Linked DNA regions of Homo sapiens: region 2 is linked to region 1. The links come from fine-mapping of genetic effects on gene expression. Tissue or cell type: whole blood. Region 1 holds a variant in brackets; the other region holds the start of a gene. All regions are shown on one strand. Distances are from middle to middle.

Region 1 (8,181 bases):
TAACTTTACCTTAAGGTTGTTTGTACTCAACAATCTGTTGTGATTAGCAACAGGTCAGTGCTGCCTTCCATTCCCTAGGATAAAGCAATATAATTTTGCTTCTTTGTAATTTTAACCCTTCAGGGAAAAGGAAGCAAATGGCATCTGATTTTTTAATTTTTCTGGAGTCCAGTTTTTAAAAAAAACTTTCTGCTTCATTCAGAATGAAGCAAACATAAAGTTGAAATAGCCTTTTTTATCCTTTCTGGGAGATGATAAAAACCTGATATTATATTGAGGAAACCAAAACAAGATAGTTTATTTAATTTCCTGCATTTCTGAATTAAAGGCCACATTCTTCTCTCATAATAAGGAATCAAAAACATAGGGAGGGATGTAGTGATGTCTCTTTCTCCCATTTTGTAACAGGAGAGGAGGATTGAATTTCCAATCACTGTCTTTATCTTTCATGTAATAATAATAGCTAAGAATTATTCAGCACTTACCATGGTTTGGATGCTATTCTATAGGATTTATATGTATTAATCCATTTGCTCTTCATAGTAACCCATGAGGAAGGGACTATTCCTATTCCCTTTTGTAGATGAGGAGAAACTGGCCACTGAGAGTATTAGCTGAGTTGCCTAAGGTACATTACTAATAGGAGGCAGAGCTGGGATTTGAATGCAGGCAGTCACAGTACCGAGTCTTTTATATATATTTTTTGAAAATACTGTTTTATTAACACCACAGTGATAAACAACTTTAAGCTTATGTTTCTTTATAGATCACTGGCTCACACATAATTCAAAACCCACACAGAAGCTAAGAGTCTTTACATTAAATATATTCTTCCTAAAAATCCTTACTGTATGCATCTGTCCTCAAGCAGTAAAATTTGATTATGCACCATTTTATAATTAATATGTCACATTTACATAGCAAAATAATGAAGGCACAGCTAATACAAGCAAACTTAAACCCTTTCTACTTCTGAGCTGGGGGTAGGGGCACACACTTGGATTGGTTCTTCAAGTATATATTTTTTCCAAACATTAGCTTCAGTGAAGAGTTCTGATGATTTTCACAGCTACACCCTAAAAGCTACATGACAGAAAGACGTCACAAGGCGCAAAGTACATAACGCTGGATACACATGCTTTACATAATTTGCTACATTCTACATCTCTTCAAGTAAATTAATATTTCTAAAACGCTAGGTAAAGTGATTTAATACTTAAACATATTTGGGGTATTTTTTACGTGTTTGTAAATAGACAGTACTAAGAAAACACAAACATGAGATTGTAACTAATGAATACATATGTTGACAGTATTTTACAGGTTTTACACCCTCCTTCTTGGAACCATGTTGTTTCTCTAAATTCAAATACTCAAAACATTTTTCAGAACTTGAAATGGCAGTTTTCCTGGCCTTATTAACAGTAGTGTCATGATCTCCATTGCAATCTTCCTCAATGCCATCAATCTCCTGTGAAGTGTAAAGCTGATGTCTGCGTTACAAAAGCAAAGTCTCAAAGATGACGTTTTTCTTGGGTTCTGCCTTCTCTGCACTGCGAAATGTCATGAGTAAAGAAATTTAAGAATTAAGCACTGAGAACGTGTTCAGTCATGGCTTGGGTGTTCCATGTGTAGCGTATGCTGTGTGATGAATGGGTTTCAAAGTGACGTTCTTTACTTCGCATCTGCTAACACCCTTTGTAAACCTCAATCCTCAGAGAAGAGACCATGAAAACATAATTTTGGGTTTAATTCAGTTTTCTTTAACACCTTTTGATATATTTATTATGTTCAAAATGAAAGTCAAATTTGAATCGAGCTGGCCAGGATCTAATTGCTTTAATTTAATCTATTTTAGGAATGTCAGAATAAATTCACATTGTATTTTGGTCAAAAACCTGAGCCTTTTTAAGTCCATCGATATTCTGGGAAAAACAAAACCAGGCTTTTTTCTTCGTGGGCTTTCTCTTCATCCATCTCTGCCCCCCTTACTTCTTGGCGTCATCAGGCATCTCGGCGTGGGCATCGTCATGTTTGGCCCCCGCGGCAGCCTCTGCCGCAGCCTCCTCCTCCTCCTCGTCTTCCCCCTCCTCCTCGTCATCCTCGTACTCCTCTTCCTCCTCCTCCTCCCCCTCCAAGGTCCATGCACACCCCTCCATCTCGCCGGTGAGCTCTTGGATCTTGGCGAGTAGGGGCTTATAGATGTCATTATACTTTTTTTCCAGAGCCTGAAATTCCTTATCAAATTTGGCTTCTATCTTATCGCATCGCTTCTGCAGCTTTTTGAGGGCCAGGACTCGGCATTTCACCGAATTAGGCAGGCTCTCGATAAAGTCATTTTTCGGCTTTGGGGCATTCTCTGCAGGGGTCTGGGGCTCCTCAGCCATCTGACCAGCCGCGCTGTCAGGGTCACCAGCCGCGCTGTCACAGTCTCCACCCTGCGCACCGCCTTCCGCCATTACCTCCTCTGCCGCTGCCTCCGCCGCTGCCGCCGCCTGGCTAGGCTCCGCAGGCCCCTGGTTTTCCGAGTCGGCCATGTTAGAGGAGAAGCCGCAGAGGTCTAGGAGGGCTCCCGCAGAGGCCCTGCACCCGAGCTGGTCCAGAGAGATCTTGCGGATGCGGCAAGTGGCGGTGACGTGCGGCCGCGGGAATGACGTTGGCCGCGGCCCCGCCTCCTGCTTTCGCGGCACTTGACTGGCTTCCCACTATCAGCTGACGGCCGTGTGCTCATACTGCACCAGATTCCTCCTGTTGCTACCCTGACATCTTCTGGGCCCTCAACACCCGCCTGTTGGACAGACACCCTGTTCCCAGCCCACCCATGTACCCACCCCTGTAGAGCTGGGCTGGGAGTGTCAGTAGCTGCCCGAGGTGCTTCTTCAGGAACTGCATAGATGGCCTCAGACCATTTTCCGTGTGCTCCTCACCCCCATCCAGGCCCTTCTACAAATGCCAGTGCATATGTCTTCGCTTTCCTCTGCATCTCTCTCCATAGCTGGCGTTTGATCACCTCTTAGATTCCTCCGCATTCCTCTCCATGCAGTGGAGGAACGGGCAAGCTGGCTCCATTCCACCCCTTTGGGGACCTGGGGTGCATGTGTGTGGATAGGGCAGCTTGCATATCCAAGCTCTGTACCTATGTGTCCACCCAACACCCCCTTGGCCATCCCACACACCTAGCGGCATATATCTTGGTGGCAAGGTCGTCTCTCAGCAGGACTCCCCTGGAAGCAGTTTTGGAGCCATTTGGGTAGGAAATCTCAGAGCTCCCGGTGTCCTGGTGTGTGTTCTAGAAGATCCTACAGAATCTTTGGCCTGTGGGAAGGACTAAAGCTTGAGGAGGGCTGAAAAAAAGCAAGTCTTTCTAAAGCATGGGGCCCAGGGCCAAGGCCCCCTCTTATCTTGGTTAAAGCATGTGCCATCTATCCCACCCCGCTCACATTCGTCTTCCCTGCCTTCCCCCAACACCGTCTGCTTCCCTGCCTTCCCCACTATCTGTTTTCACACCTTTCCACACCACATCTTCTCCCTCCCTCCTGCCCCTCCCCCGCACTGACTTATGCCCCACCTTCTGCCCATCTTCTTCCCCGCCTTCTTCCCCACTCACTGCCTCCTTCCTCACCTTCCCCCCGCCGCACTGTCCTTTTCCCCACCTTCCTCACCCTCTTCTTCCCCACCCTCCTTACCCTCTTCTTCCCCACCTTCCTCACCCTCCTCACCCCCTTCTTCCTCACCCACTGCCTTCTTCCTCACCTTCCCCCCACCGAACTTTTTCCTCACGCTCCTCACCCTCTTCTTCCTCACCCTCTTCACCCTCTTCTTCCTCACGCTCCTCACCCTCTTCTTCCTCACCCTCTTCACCCTCTTCTTCCTCACGCTCCTCACCCTCTTCTTCCTCACCCTCTTCACCCTCTTCTTCCTCACGCTCCTCACCCTCTTCTTCCTCACCCTCTTCACCCTCTTCTTCCTCACGCTCCTCACCCTCTTCTTCCTCACCCTCTTCACCCTCTTCTTCCCCACCCCCTAGCCCCACCCTCTTCCCACCCACCCCCAGCCCCGCCTTCTTCTTCCCCACCCACCCACCCAGCCCCACCCTCTTCCTCCCCACCCACCCACGCAGCCCCACCCTCTTCTTCCCCACCCTGCCCACCATCTTCTTCCCCACGATCTGTCTTCTTCCCCACCTTCCCCCACGGTCTTCACCACCTTCCCCCAACCGTCTTCTTTACCCTGCTCACCATCTTCTTACTGGCTCACCATCTTCTCTGCCTTCTTTCTCACTCCCATATATCATCTCTTTTGATGGCTACAGCTGCCTTGAGATTAGGAATGATGTTTCTCATTTTACAGATAGTAAACTTAGAAGCAAATACAGTGAAATCATCTTACTGCATGTATCACTTAATTGGCAGATGCAGGGGCAGAAAACAGGCCTTTTGACCCCTATAGTATGGATGTTGTGACAGACTTTAAAAAAAAAATCCCACATTTTGGTTAAATTCATTTGACTAACTTAACTTGCTTAAAATATTTAGGGCATGTTCATCTTTCAAGATTTTTATTTTCCTGTCTCAACAGATCTTAAAACTTAGTGTTAAACCAGACTGTTTTTTAAAAAGTCTGGCTTATTGAGGTATCATTTACATAACAGTAAAATTTGTCCTTTTGGGCGTGCTTTCACAAGCAAATACAGTAATGTAAGC[A/G]CTGTAGTAATCAAGATATAGAACAGTAAATAGTCCCCTAAAAGTCCGTTGTGGCCCTTCCCCAGCATCCAGCCCTGGTGAGCACTGTGCTGTTCTCTGTCTCAGTACCTCTGTTTTTTCCAGAATGTCAGGTAAATTGAATCATATGAATGTAGCCATTTGAGCCTGGCTTTTTTTTTTTACTAGCAGAGTACATTTGAGATTGATTTATGTTGTTGTATATATTAGTAAATTTATTTTTTATTATTTTTTATTTTACTTTTTATTATTGGGTAGTATTCCCATTTGTGGTGTTTGCAGTTTTTCATAATTGTGAATAATGCTGTGATCATTCATCTACAGGTTTCTCTATGAGCATGGACTTTTATTTCTCTTGGGTAGACACCTAGCAGTGGGATTGCTGGGTCATACAGTAAATGTACGCTTAACTTCATAAGAAGCTGCCACACTGTTTCCCAAAGTGGCTTTAATCTGTTTAGTGTTGCTAAAAAGGAAGACCGGAGGCTGCTAGCTAAAAGGTTCAAGATTGGGCATGTAGATGGTGAGAGTCTCAGGCTGCTTCCTGAGACTGTTGAGCTATTTCTACCAATAGTCCCTTAAGTGAAATCTAGGTTTTTCTATCAAGCTCCTCAAAACTCTTTCAGGCTCTACCTATTTCCTCATTTCAAAGGCACATCTGCGTTTTTAGGTATTTGCTGTTGTAGTACTGTACTTCTTAGTACCGAAATCTATATGTCAGTGTTCTCCAGAGAAACAGAACCAACAGGGTGTGAAGCCGAGGGGGGTGGGGGCAAGGAGGGATTTATTTTAAAGAATTGGTTCATGTGATTGTGGGGGCTGTCAAACCCGAAATCTGCAGGGTAGGCTGTAAGGCTAGAAATTCTGGCAATAGTTAATATTTAAATCTTGAGTCCAAAGACAGTCTGGAGGGAGAATTCTTTCCTCTTTGGAGGACCTCAAGTCTTTTTCTCTTAAGGCCTTCAGCTGATTGGATATGGCCTACCCACATTATGGAGGGTAACCTGCTTTACTCAAAGTCAATGAATTTAAATGTTCATCCCAACTAAAAAAATATCTTAACAACATCCAGACTGGTGTTTGACCAAACAACTGGATGCCATAGCCTAGCCAAGTTGACCTATAAAATTAACCATCACAGTCTGTAATAAAAATTGTTGTGATGGTGTTTCTCTTGGGTAATTGTATCAGAAAAATGTCATTAGTTTAGTGTCATGGGTTTCAGAGAAGTGAGGTGTTATATACGGTGTGAGAAACTTTCAGCATCAATGATTAACATGCACAATAATCTTTTTACATTAGTGGCTTTATTTTAAAGATTGCACAGTTATACCATTTTAAAAATGGGAAAAGGGAGGCTTACTAGTTAGATACAGAAGATGGCAGAGCCTGGATTTGAACCCCTGTCTGCCTCACTTATCCACTGTATTACACCATTTGTTGGCTAGTTATTGGTGTGGATGGTGAACATGTAAAAACTATCTGCTTGGAGGAAACCCAATAATTCAAATGTAGCTTTATGAAGTATTAAATTACAGTGATGGATAAGTAGTAAATAACTATCTTCATGATGTGAAGTTTTAAAATTGTTTTTAATCTAAAATACAAAAAGTTAATGTGACAAACATTTGTATATATGATCCACAGTCAACAGGTATTTGCTTCAGATTTTTTAATAAAAGAAAAAAATTACTGATACCGCTGTACATACCCTTAATTCCAAATTACTGATACTGTTGTACATACCCTTAATTCCATTCCCCTCTTCCCGCCCTTCTTTCTTACACAGACAAAACTCTTATGAATTTGATATGTTTTTTTTATGTTTTTATACTTTTTATAATAAACATGTATGTTAAAACAGATTTTTTTTTTTTTTTTTGAGATAGGGTCTTGCTTTGTCACCCGGGCTGAAGTACAGTGGCGTGATCATGGCTCACTGCAGCCTTGACCTCCTGGGCTCAGGTGATTCTCCCACCTCAGCCTTCTGAGCAGCTGGGACTACAGGCATGCACCACCAGGCCTGGCTAATTTTTTGTGGAGACTGGGTCTTGCCATGTTGCCCAGGCTGGTTTTGAATTCTGGGCTGAAGCCATCTGCCTGCCTCAGCCTCCCAAAGTGCTGGGATTATAGGCATGAGCCACTGCACCTGGCTAGACAAAGATCTTTTTACATTAATGTCTTTGTTTTTAAAAATGAACACTTACACATCTTATGTATGCATCATATTTATAATTTCATACTCATAAGCAAAATCTCATATCCATAAACAATATGATAATACTAGTTAATACTTACAAAGTAATTGTTATACACCAGCCTTGGTTTAAGCACTCTTACATGTATTCACTCATTTAATCCTAAAGCAGTCCCATGTGTTATCTACTCTTACTCTCCCCCATTTTACAAATGAGGACACAGGCATGGAGAAGTTAAATAACTTGCCCAAGGGTCACAAGCTCTGAGTGACAGAGCTACTACCTTTTATAAGTAGCATTGTTTTAAGTGTTAAAACACAACTTACATAAATGCCATCATATTTTACTGAACATGCAAATACTTGATTTTCACTCAGCATTGTTCTTGAGATTCTATTCATTTTGCTAAGTTTAGATCTAGTTAATTCCATCAAAGTGCTCTGCTTTATGGTTTCCATCATATGACTCTACCATCTTTTCCTTGTCCATGTTCATATTAATGGATGTTTAGTGTTGTTTCTCTAAATTCTCTATATTGCAAGAAAATGCTGCAGTAAACTTGCCTGCACTCATCTTCTTGTGCACACATGTTAGCGTCTCTGCATTACCTACCCGCTAGCACAGTGGCATGGTCAAGGGTATTTACATTTTCAACTTATCTAGATATTGACAGAATTTCCCCCCAAAATGTTTATGTCTAGGTTCACAGTTTATATTTCCACTTGTGAGAGACTGAATATTCCTATGGACAATGGCCAGGCCATATATAAATAAACATGGAGCTGAGACCCACAATCTGCAGCAACCTGCCCGGGAAACCAACCTCTTATCTGCAATAAGCAGCCCAGGAAGCCAGCCTGCTATAAGTCAGACTTGCAGGCAGCCTGATTGCCATCTGTCTCGATAACTTCTGTAACAGTGGGCCCAAATAGGCCAGGATGTGATTAATAATCAGCAGCTTCCCTAATTTTTGTTCCTACTTCCAACTTAGGGCCAACCAGAGAAAGCCAAATACACACCCTTAACCAGTCACATAGGATGCCCCACTTCTAGTTAGCCCACCTGCAGCTTCCCCAGACTAGCAGCCTCCAATCAGAGTGTACCTGAAGCCTTCCCTCTTTCCACTGTAAAGCTTTTCCACTCCTCTGCTTGATTTTGAGTCTCTGCCACAACACAAGTGACAGTGGCTGACTCTCTTGCTATAGCAGCTCTGAAAAAATAGCCTTTGCTCTTCTCATTTGGTTGATCTTTATATATTTCCA
Region 2 (8,181 bases), 110 kb before region 1:
TCTAAGAGCACATATTAAGGGACTTTTTAAAAGGAGGAACCTTCACGAAATACTTCACTTCCTAAAGGCTTTATTGGATGAAATCTTCAGAGACCAGCTAATGCTCAACTTAAAGGTTTTCTTAGAAAATGTTCAACCATCCAATCCTGTTATCATTAATACATTTTAATTTATATGAAAACAATGAGTTTCTCATAATTAAGGTAAGATTCTTATGCTTCATCCAAATGGCTTGATAAGAAAAAAATGCAAACAAACCATGAATAGTTTCAAGGAAGATAGAGAAATAATCATAAGGGCTGTAAGCTCTTTGTAGTCAGGAATGATGCTTCTTGTCTAGCAGTACTACAGGTGGAACATATTCAATAATATTAAAAGATTATTTGATGGTAATACTGATTTACCATAATGTTTTTATTCTAAGTTGTTTCATATTAATAAATCAATGCTGTGTGTTACAGGACAGTTTTTAATAAGTTTAGTCTGGGTATAGATAGACTGATTTTTCCATTAAGTACTGACTAGACTGAGAAAGTAAGTACTTCTTTTGGACGTGGGGGACCAAGAAACACCTTTGTCATTACATAACCATACAAGGTACACATACTTTTTACTTGTCAAATAATCAGTCAGTGCTTTTCCCTCCTAAAGATATTTATTCTTCAATGGTGTATCTGAGAGACAGAATGTCCTGGGTAGCCTGTTTTTTTCCACAGATTTCATCCAAGATATCAGAAATCTATCTCTTTCAAAGTTTACCAAGTAAATATTTGTCTGCAAGGCAAGTAAATTAAACAAAGGGAAGAAAGGAAAACAATTATCATTAAACAGTATTACCATTCTATTGAAAAATGGTTTCATTTGAAAATAGATGTATTTTAAGAAGTGAATGGTAACTAATGGAGGAAATCAGCATGTGTTCAGGTAGAAGTGCAGCAGCCCTGGGCACCATCCCCTTGCCACTGGGCATACCTTGTCTAACCAGTGATAGAGCTGAACCACATGGTCCTGTCCCCCTGTCAAAAGTTATGGTTAGTTTAATCCTTGCTCCTCGGGAGGCTAAGGCAGCAGGATTGCTTGAGTCTAGGAGTTTGAAGCCAGCCTGGGCAACATAGCAAGATCCTGTCTCTTAAAAAAAAAGTTATGGTTATATGTGTGTGTGTGTGTGTATGTGCACGCGTGTGTGCGTGTGTGTGTGTGTATTTGGAGTCTCCTCTGTCATCCAGGCTGGAGTGCAGTGGTGCCATCAAAGCTCAATGCAACCTCGAATTCCTATGCTCAAGCTATTCTCTCACCTCAGCCTCCCAAGTAGCTAGGACTAAAGGCGTGCCCCACCATGCCTATTTTTATTTTTTGGAGAGACAGGGACTCACTATGTTGCACAGGCTGGTCTCAAACTCCTGGCCTCAAGCGATGCTCTTGCCTCAGCCTGTAACCCAAAGCCCTGGGATTACAGGGGCATGAGCCTAGAATTTATTAAGCCTTTTATTTTTAACATGAATGTTTTTCTTTTATAAAATTTATACAGGTTAGCAAGTATATATTCCTTGGTACAATTATTTGGTTAATGTTTGTCTCCCCTTTCATGGCAACAAAGACTGTACTGTTTTGCTTACCAATGTATTCACAGGGGCTGACATTATTGTAGGTGCTCAGTATATAGTACGTTTGTTAGAGAATATATGAGAATGCAGAAAGAAATGGATGGAAGACAGGGCTATAGAAATGGAAGGAAAAAGTAAACCATGGCCTCTTCAAAACAGTTTACGTATCTGCTGTTAAGACTATTGCTGATGCTGGAGCCATTTAAAGCCATTTTGAAGCAGGACATGCTTGCTAAGGAAATTGTCATTATATGTTGTCCCAATGAAAAAAAATAAATCGAAGTACTGTGGTATCTTTACTGTTCTATGTAAGTTCTATGTAAGTTCTCAGGGTTTGGCTATTTATTTGGTAAAAGAAGCTTACAGTATCCTAACTTGTTATTTATACATTGCTCCTATCCCATTTCTAGGCTTGAGTCTTTGATAACCATCCTTTTCCTCAAGATGAAATTTCATATGAAAAACACTTGAGCCGGCCGGCACGGAGGCTCACGCCTGTAATCTCAGCACTTTGGGAGGCCGAGGTGGGCAGATGATTTGAGGTCAGGAGTTCTAAACCGGCCTGGCCAACATGGTGAAATCCCGCCTCTACTAAAAGTACAAAAATGAGCCGGGTGTGGTGGTGAGCGCCTGTAATCCCAGCTACTCGGGAGGCTGAGGCAGGAGAATTGCTTGAGCCGGGGAGGTGGATGTTGCAGTGAGCAGAGATCGCGCCACTGCACTCCATCCCAGGCAACTGAGCGAGACTCCTTCTCAAAAAAACAAACTCCGGGCGCGGTGGCTCACGCCTGTAATCCCAGCACTTTGGGAGGCCGAGGTGGGCGGATCACGAGGTCAGGAGATTGAGACCATCCTGGCTAACATGGTGAAACCCCGTCTCTACTGAAAATACAAAAATTAGCCGGGCGTTGTGGTGGGCGCCTGTAGTCCCAGTTACTCAGGAGGCTGCGACAGGAGACTTGCGTGAATCCGGGAGGCGCAGCTTGCAGGGAGCCGAGTTTGCGCCACTGCACTCCAGCCTGGGCGACAGAGCGAGACTCCGTCTCAAAAACAAAAAACAAAAAAACAACAACAAAAAAAGAAAAACACTTGAGCCATGGGCCAGACATATCAACCCAAACACTGATTGATTACAAACCTCATATGTGACACCTAACAATAGGATCTCTCACTTTCTCCTTTGCAAGTACCGGACTCCTTCGTCTTCCTACCAGACTCCTCTTTGGGCATTTAACCAGTTCTTTTGCCAACAGCATCTCTAAATTGGGATTGCATCTTTGTAATAGACTAAACTTTTGTGAAACTGCCACATATCTGGAATATAAGTGAATTGTGTTACTCTTGTCCCCAGTGTTTCTTTTTTCCTTTTTCTTTCTTTTTTTTTTTTTTTTGAGACAACGTTTCATTCTGTTGCCCAGGCTGGAGTAAGTACAGTGGCTTGATTTCAGCTTACTGCAACCTCCGCCTTCCAGGTTCCAGTGATTCTCCTGCCTCAGCCTCCTGAGTAGCTGGGACTACAGGCGCACACCACCCTACTCGGCTAATTTTGGTATTTTTTTTTGTAGAGACAAGGTTTCACCATGTTGGCCAGGCTGGTCTCGAACTGCTGACCTCAAGTGATCCACCGGCTTCGGCCTCCCAAAGTGCCGAGATTACAGGCATGGGCCACCGCGCCTGGCCATCCCCAGTGTTTCTAAACGTGTCAAGTGTGATCCAAATTTCAAAGGTTTGGATTTTTTCTTAGATGACCTGATAACTTAGATTCTGCTTTTTTAGCTTTCTTGTCTCAGTGTACTGGACAATTTGCATTATTTCACGGAGGGCTCAACACTGTCAGTCAGCCAACAACGTCTCATCCCCAGGATACACCACTCCTTGAAACTTTCTTTTCTACTTGGTCAGTCTGTTAGGTTCTCAGGACGAGCGATTGCAGACCTGAGGTGATTTGAATGTCCTTGGTAAGAATCTATCCTCAAAGGGCCTTCCTGCTTCAAATGCCAGGTTATAGAAATTCTTCCACTGGGAGAGTTATTCCTTTGGATTAAAGCAGTACCGTGCCAGTGTTCTGCATTTTACATTTAAGGGGGGCAGACACATGAAGTCACCTTTCTGAGGTTTTCTGCAAAAGATTAGCTGTGGATCAGATCAGGTCTAGGGCAAGTATGAAAGCACTAGTGACCTTGGGGAGGGGGAGGAAGCTCTGGGATTCGGCGCTAGGGAAAAGTGGAAGAGGACAAACTTTTAAAAAATCCGTTACTGGGTATAGGCCACAGAGTGTCTTTCAGATTACAAGATTTTAAGATCTGGTGCTCAGACTCTTCTTGCTATGCTCCCCCCGGGTCCACCCTCCAGCCTCCCCCAGGCCCGCCTTTCTTCCGCAGCCCCGTGCCGGTCTTCGATCCCCACCTCTCCAGAAGAGCGCCGGCGGCTGCCGCGTACCTCCTTCCCCGCCTCTCCCACCGCGCAGCGCCGCGGGCCGGCGCCGCGCTTCCTACAGTCCTACGAAGGGGAGTAAAGCAGAAGACTAGCGCACTCTCCCTCAATTGTCACCCTCCAGCTTTTTCCCCCGTGCCCAAGGCTTTCGGTCACCTCTTCATAAATAATAAAAACCAGAGTCCAGAACCTGAATAGGCAACCGCTGATCGGTCCAGCTCGCTTCCCCGCCAGTGAAAAGCAATCTTATTTCAGCGTCAACGCTCTATGTCTTGCAGTCCGATTTCGGCTGACACACCCGTGCCGCTGTCCCCGCGCCGGGCCCTCGAGTCCTGTCACCTCGGGCAGCCTGCGCCTGGCTCTGGGGCCTGGGCCTCTCCCCTCCTCCTGCCCGCGGACCTTGCCGCCCCGCCTCCAGCCCGTGCCACGGCGGCCGCCATTGGCGCGGGCCCATCCCAGAACGGCGCCCATTGGCCCGGTGCGAAGCCATTCACCCAGCGCATTCCGCCGCCCGCAGGCTTGCGGGGAAACTTCCTTATTATTGTGACGCCGAAAACGGAGAAACCCCGGGTCCGGCGAGAGGGGCTGTGACAGTCGGAGTCCCAAGCTGCGGTTCGGCTGCTGCCGAGGTGCGCAGGGCGGGGGCCGGGGTTCCAGGGAGGGGGGTACGGCGGAGCTGCAGCCGCGCTGGGCCGCGTTCCGCCTGGCACTGCAGTCAGCGCGCGGCTCCCGGAGGGGCGGCTGCGGCTCCTCCCGTGGCTCCGGCGGCGGGGGCTGCAGGCACCTCCAGAGACGACCTGGGTCTGGGGCGCGGGGAGGTTGGGGCGCGGCGCCCTTAGTACCCTGCGTACGCCTCCCTGGCGTTCTCGTGGGCTCGCCCTCCGGTCAGAGAGCCCCGCGCCGGGAAAGGCGAGACAAGCCTTCAAAATGGGAGCGCCTCCCGCCCGCGCTCGGCCGCCCTCCCGCCCTGCCGCCCGGGAGGAATTGCGACGCAGAAAGTCAAAAGGAGGATAGTCCCTATGCTCGCCCCCTGCCCCTATTTAAATTCTGGGGTTCCAGGGACCTCCGTGCAGTGAGGGGCGCGGACGCTTTCAATTGAAATGGGAGCTGGCGAGGCCCTGGCATTTTGGGGAACCTCAGCGGCCGCGAGGAGTTTGCGCCGAGGACGCGGTGCACGGCGTCCGCGATGACAGCGCCGGCAGGGCTGCGGGGCCCGGCACCACCCACTTCGCGGAGGCCGGGCCGGCTCGCCTCTCCCGGGTCCGCCTCCTGGGCGGGGCCGGGGGCGAGGGTGTGTGCGGACACGTGTGTACGGGTGTGTGTGTGTGTGTACGCCGACACGTCGGTGCGGACCGACGCGGGGGTGTCAGGAGCTGGGACGGCCGGGGGCAGGTGAGACTTGAGTCATTTGTGAATGTGTGGAGTGGGCAAACCAGGGCAACCAGACCGAGAGGAGCATGTGTAACCTGAAACAGGTGAGCCTATGGAGACAGTACCTAATGCGACTGTGCACGGAATATGTGTATGCAGCATGAGCTCCAGGGAATAAGTATTTGAACTTTGCTGTTGGTCTGTCACTGTTTCTGGCTGCTTTCTGATTGCATTTTACATCAGCTTTCAAATGAGCTCAATTAGGAAGTACCTAATTCAGAGAAAAGCCTTCCAGGATTTTGCTTGCATTCATCACGCATAGAATGCTTTGGGAAAGACGATTCAAGAGCTCTCTTCCATTTGTATGTGTCTTCTGGCTCTTTCCACAAATAAGAAGCTATTTCTAGAACCTTTTATTTGATGATTAGATAAGATCAAGTGAGCTGATTTTTCAACTCTAGACTTGAGAGAAATGAAAAAATAAAAAGTTTTAAATGCGGTGATCGGGTATCATGTTTTAGTCGGCAGATTACTGTGAAGCTCTCTCCTTTTGTACTTTCCTTTACCCTGGGGGAGGAGGGAGTAGCATTATAAATCAGAAAAGCAAAGTACATGGATTGCATATCCTAAAGCAAAATAATTGAATTACATATTTTACATCATGGTCGTACCGCCTTCGAGGCTAGGAACTTTCTGTAAAAAGTATAATGCAGGGAACAAGGAGGACAGGTTAGAAACCTCTTTGGCAGAACTCCTTTGGCATGAAAAACAAAATTAGCACATTAGCACTAGCATCCAGTTCTTGTTCAGTAAGTAGCTGGAGTTTACTTTTTGAAAAAGAAACAGGGATTTCAGAATGTTCCATGTTGTGTGCTTGAAGCCATTCGTTATAGCATTTCATTCTGAAGACCAAATTTAAATTTCTTAAGATTTGTATGACCAATTAAAAACTTTTTTTATACTTAATGAGAGTAGTAGTACCCCTACTGGAGACACAAGATAGTTATGCTTCAGTTTTATAAGTAAAAGTACTATTCTCCAGATCGAATGGGATTTTCTGCATAGAGAGGTAGAAATAAAGTTATGACAATATCTTTTCTTTCGAGATGGGGGGTCTCGCTCTGTTGCACAGGCTGGAGTGCACTGGTGCGATCTCGGCTCACTGCAACCTCCGCCTCCCAGGCTCAAGCGAATCTGCCACCTTACCCTCCAAAGTAGCTGGGACCACAGGCGTGCACCACCATGCCCAGCTAATTTTTTGTAGTTTTTGGTTTCGCCAAAAGACGAAACGGGGTTTTGCCATGTTGCTCAGGCTGATCTCCAACCCCTGGGCTCAGGCTGTCCACCCGCCTGGGCCTCCTAAAGTGCTTGACAAAAATATCTTAAAATCATGGAGGACTTTTTCTTTTGAGATACTTTAGGTATCTCTCTGAGATGATCTCTTCTCATTTTGCATGATGGAGGATGTGGTAATGAAAAGGGAAAGACCGGGTGCAGTGACTGGCTGGGCGCAGTGGCTCACACCTGTAATCCCAGCACTTTGGGCGGCTTGAGACGGGTGGATCACTTGAGGTCAGGAGTTGGAGACCAGCCTGACCAACATGGTGAAACCCCTTCTCTACTAAAAATAGAAAAATTAGCTGGGCGTGGTGGCGGGCGCCTGTAATTCCAGCTACTTGGGAGGCTGAGGCAGGAGAATCGCTTGAACCTGGGAGGCAGAGGTTGCAGTGAGCCGAGATCGGCCACTGCACTCCAGCCTGGGTGAAAGAGCCAGACTCTGTCTCAAAAAAAAAAAAAAAAAAAAAAAGAAAAGGAATGAAAGGAGACAGTCTTCATAACAGTTGTGGCAAAACAAGCTGCTATGTGTCATACATGGAAAAATAAAGAAAATAGACAAAATTTAATTATTTTCCAAAATTTTCTCTAACAAAAATGGGAGATTTTAAAGTAATTCCATTTTTACTACTCCCTATCAAATGTCAGGAATTTTTATAAGGTGATATCTATATCTCTAGTTCACTTTTAGAGGTGATTGATGTCTTTATAACTGGTTAGAGGTTATCTTACTGGTATTTAACCAAACTCCTGTCTTGAGATACAATGCGTGGGGAATATTCAAGATTGAGTAATTTAAAGATATTCTTATTTTCAGAGGTTAACTCCTGTCTTTTTGTTTACAGTAACATGAAGACACAACAGAGTTCCATACTAATGTTATTTATTATTTCTTTAACTTGCAGAACTGCAAGGTGTGGAATATTTCTGGCTTCTAGTCCAATGCCAAGTGTGTGACCTGTGGTGAGTTACTTAATTTTTCTGGACCTCAGTTTTTCATCTTGTAAATGGAGTCCTTTACATGCATTATCCTGTTTAATACTCTCATCAACTCAAGCTAGGGTAGCTACCTAGAGAGGGACCTAAACAAATCTCAGTGCCTTCCTGCTGCTCTAAGATAGTGAAGAGAACAAGGTGAGCCCAAGAAGTAGGAGACCTGGTTTCTGGTCTCTGCTTCAAGCACTTAATTCTTTTTTTTTTTTTTTTTTTTTTTTTTTGAGAGGGAGTCTGGCTGTCGCCCACGCTGGAGTGCAGTGGCGGGATCTCGGCTCACTGCAGGCTCCGCCCCCCGGGGTTCATGCCATTCTCCTGCCTCAGCCTCCCGAGTAGCTGGGACTACAGGTGCCCACCACCTCGCCCAGCTAATTTTTTGTATTTTTAGTAGAGACGGGGTTTCACTGTGTTAGCCAGGATGGTCTTGATCTCCTGACCTCGTGAT

Evidence for each region. PIP is the estimated chance that this variant, and not a neighbour inherited with it, causes the effect.
Region 2: it holds the start of HERC3, and the variant in region 1 is fine-mapped to the expression of HERC3 in whole blood (TOPMed, PIP 0.92).

The regions. Positions count from the first base shown.
Region 1 is chr4:88,695,218-88,703,398 of GRCh38, forward strand. The region is part of intron 23 of HERC3 (HECT and RLD domain containing E3 ubiquitin protein ligase 3); the gene reads left to right. NAP1L5 (nucleosome assembly protein 1 like 5) reads right to left here and starts at 2,612. Exons shown (of 1, transcript NM_153757.4): 1 at 696-2,612. The coding sequence starts at 2,537. The coding sequence ends at 1,989. RefSeq lists an enhancer at 2,702-2,761. The variant A/G (reference allele first, on the strand shown) is at 4,704.
Region 2 is chr4:88,587,909-88,596,089 of GRCh38, forward strand. HERC3 (HECT and RLD domain containing E3 ubiquitin protein ligase 3) reads left to right here and starts at 4,572. Exons shown (of 26, transcript NM_014606.3): 1 at 4,572-4,666; 2 at 7,649-7,706. RefSeq lists silencers at 4,078-4,137, 4,308-4,867, 5,188-5,597.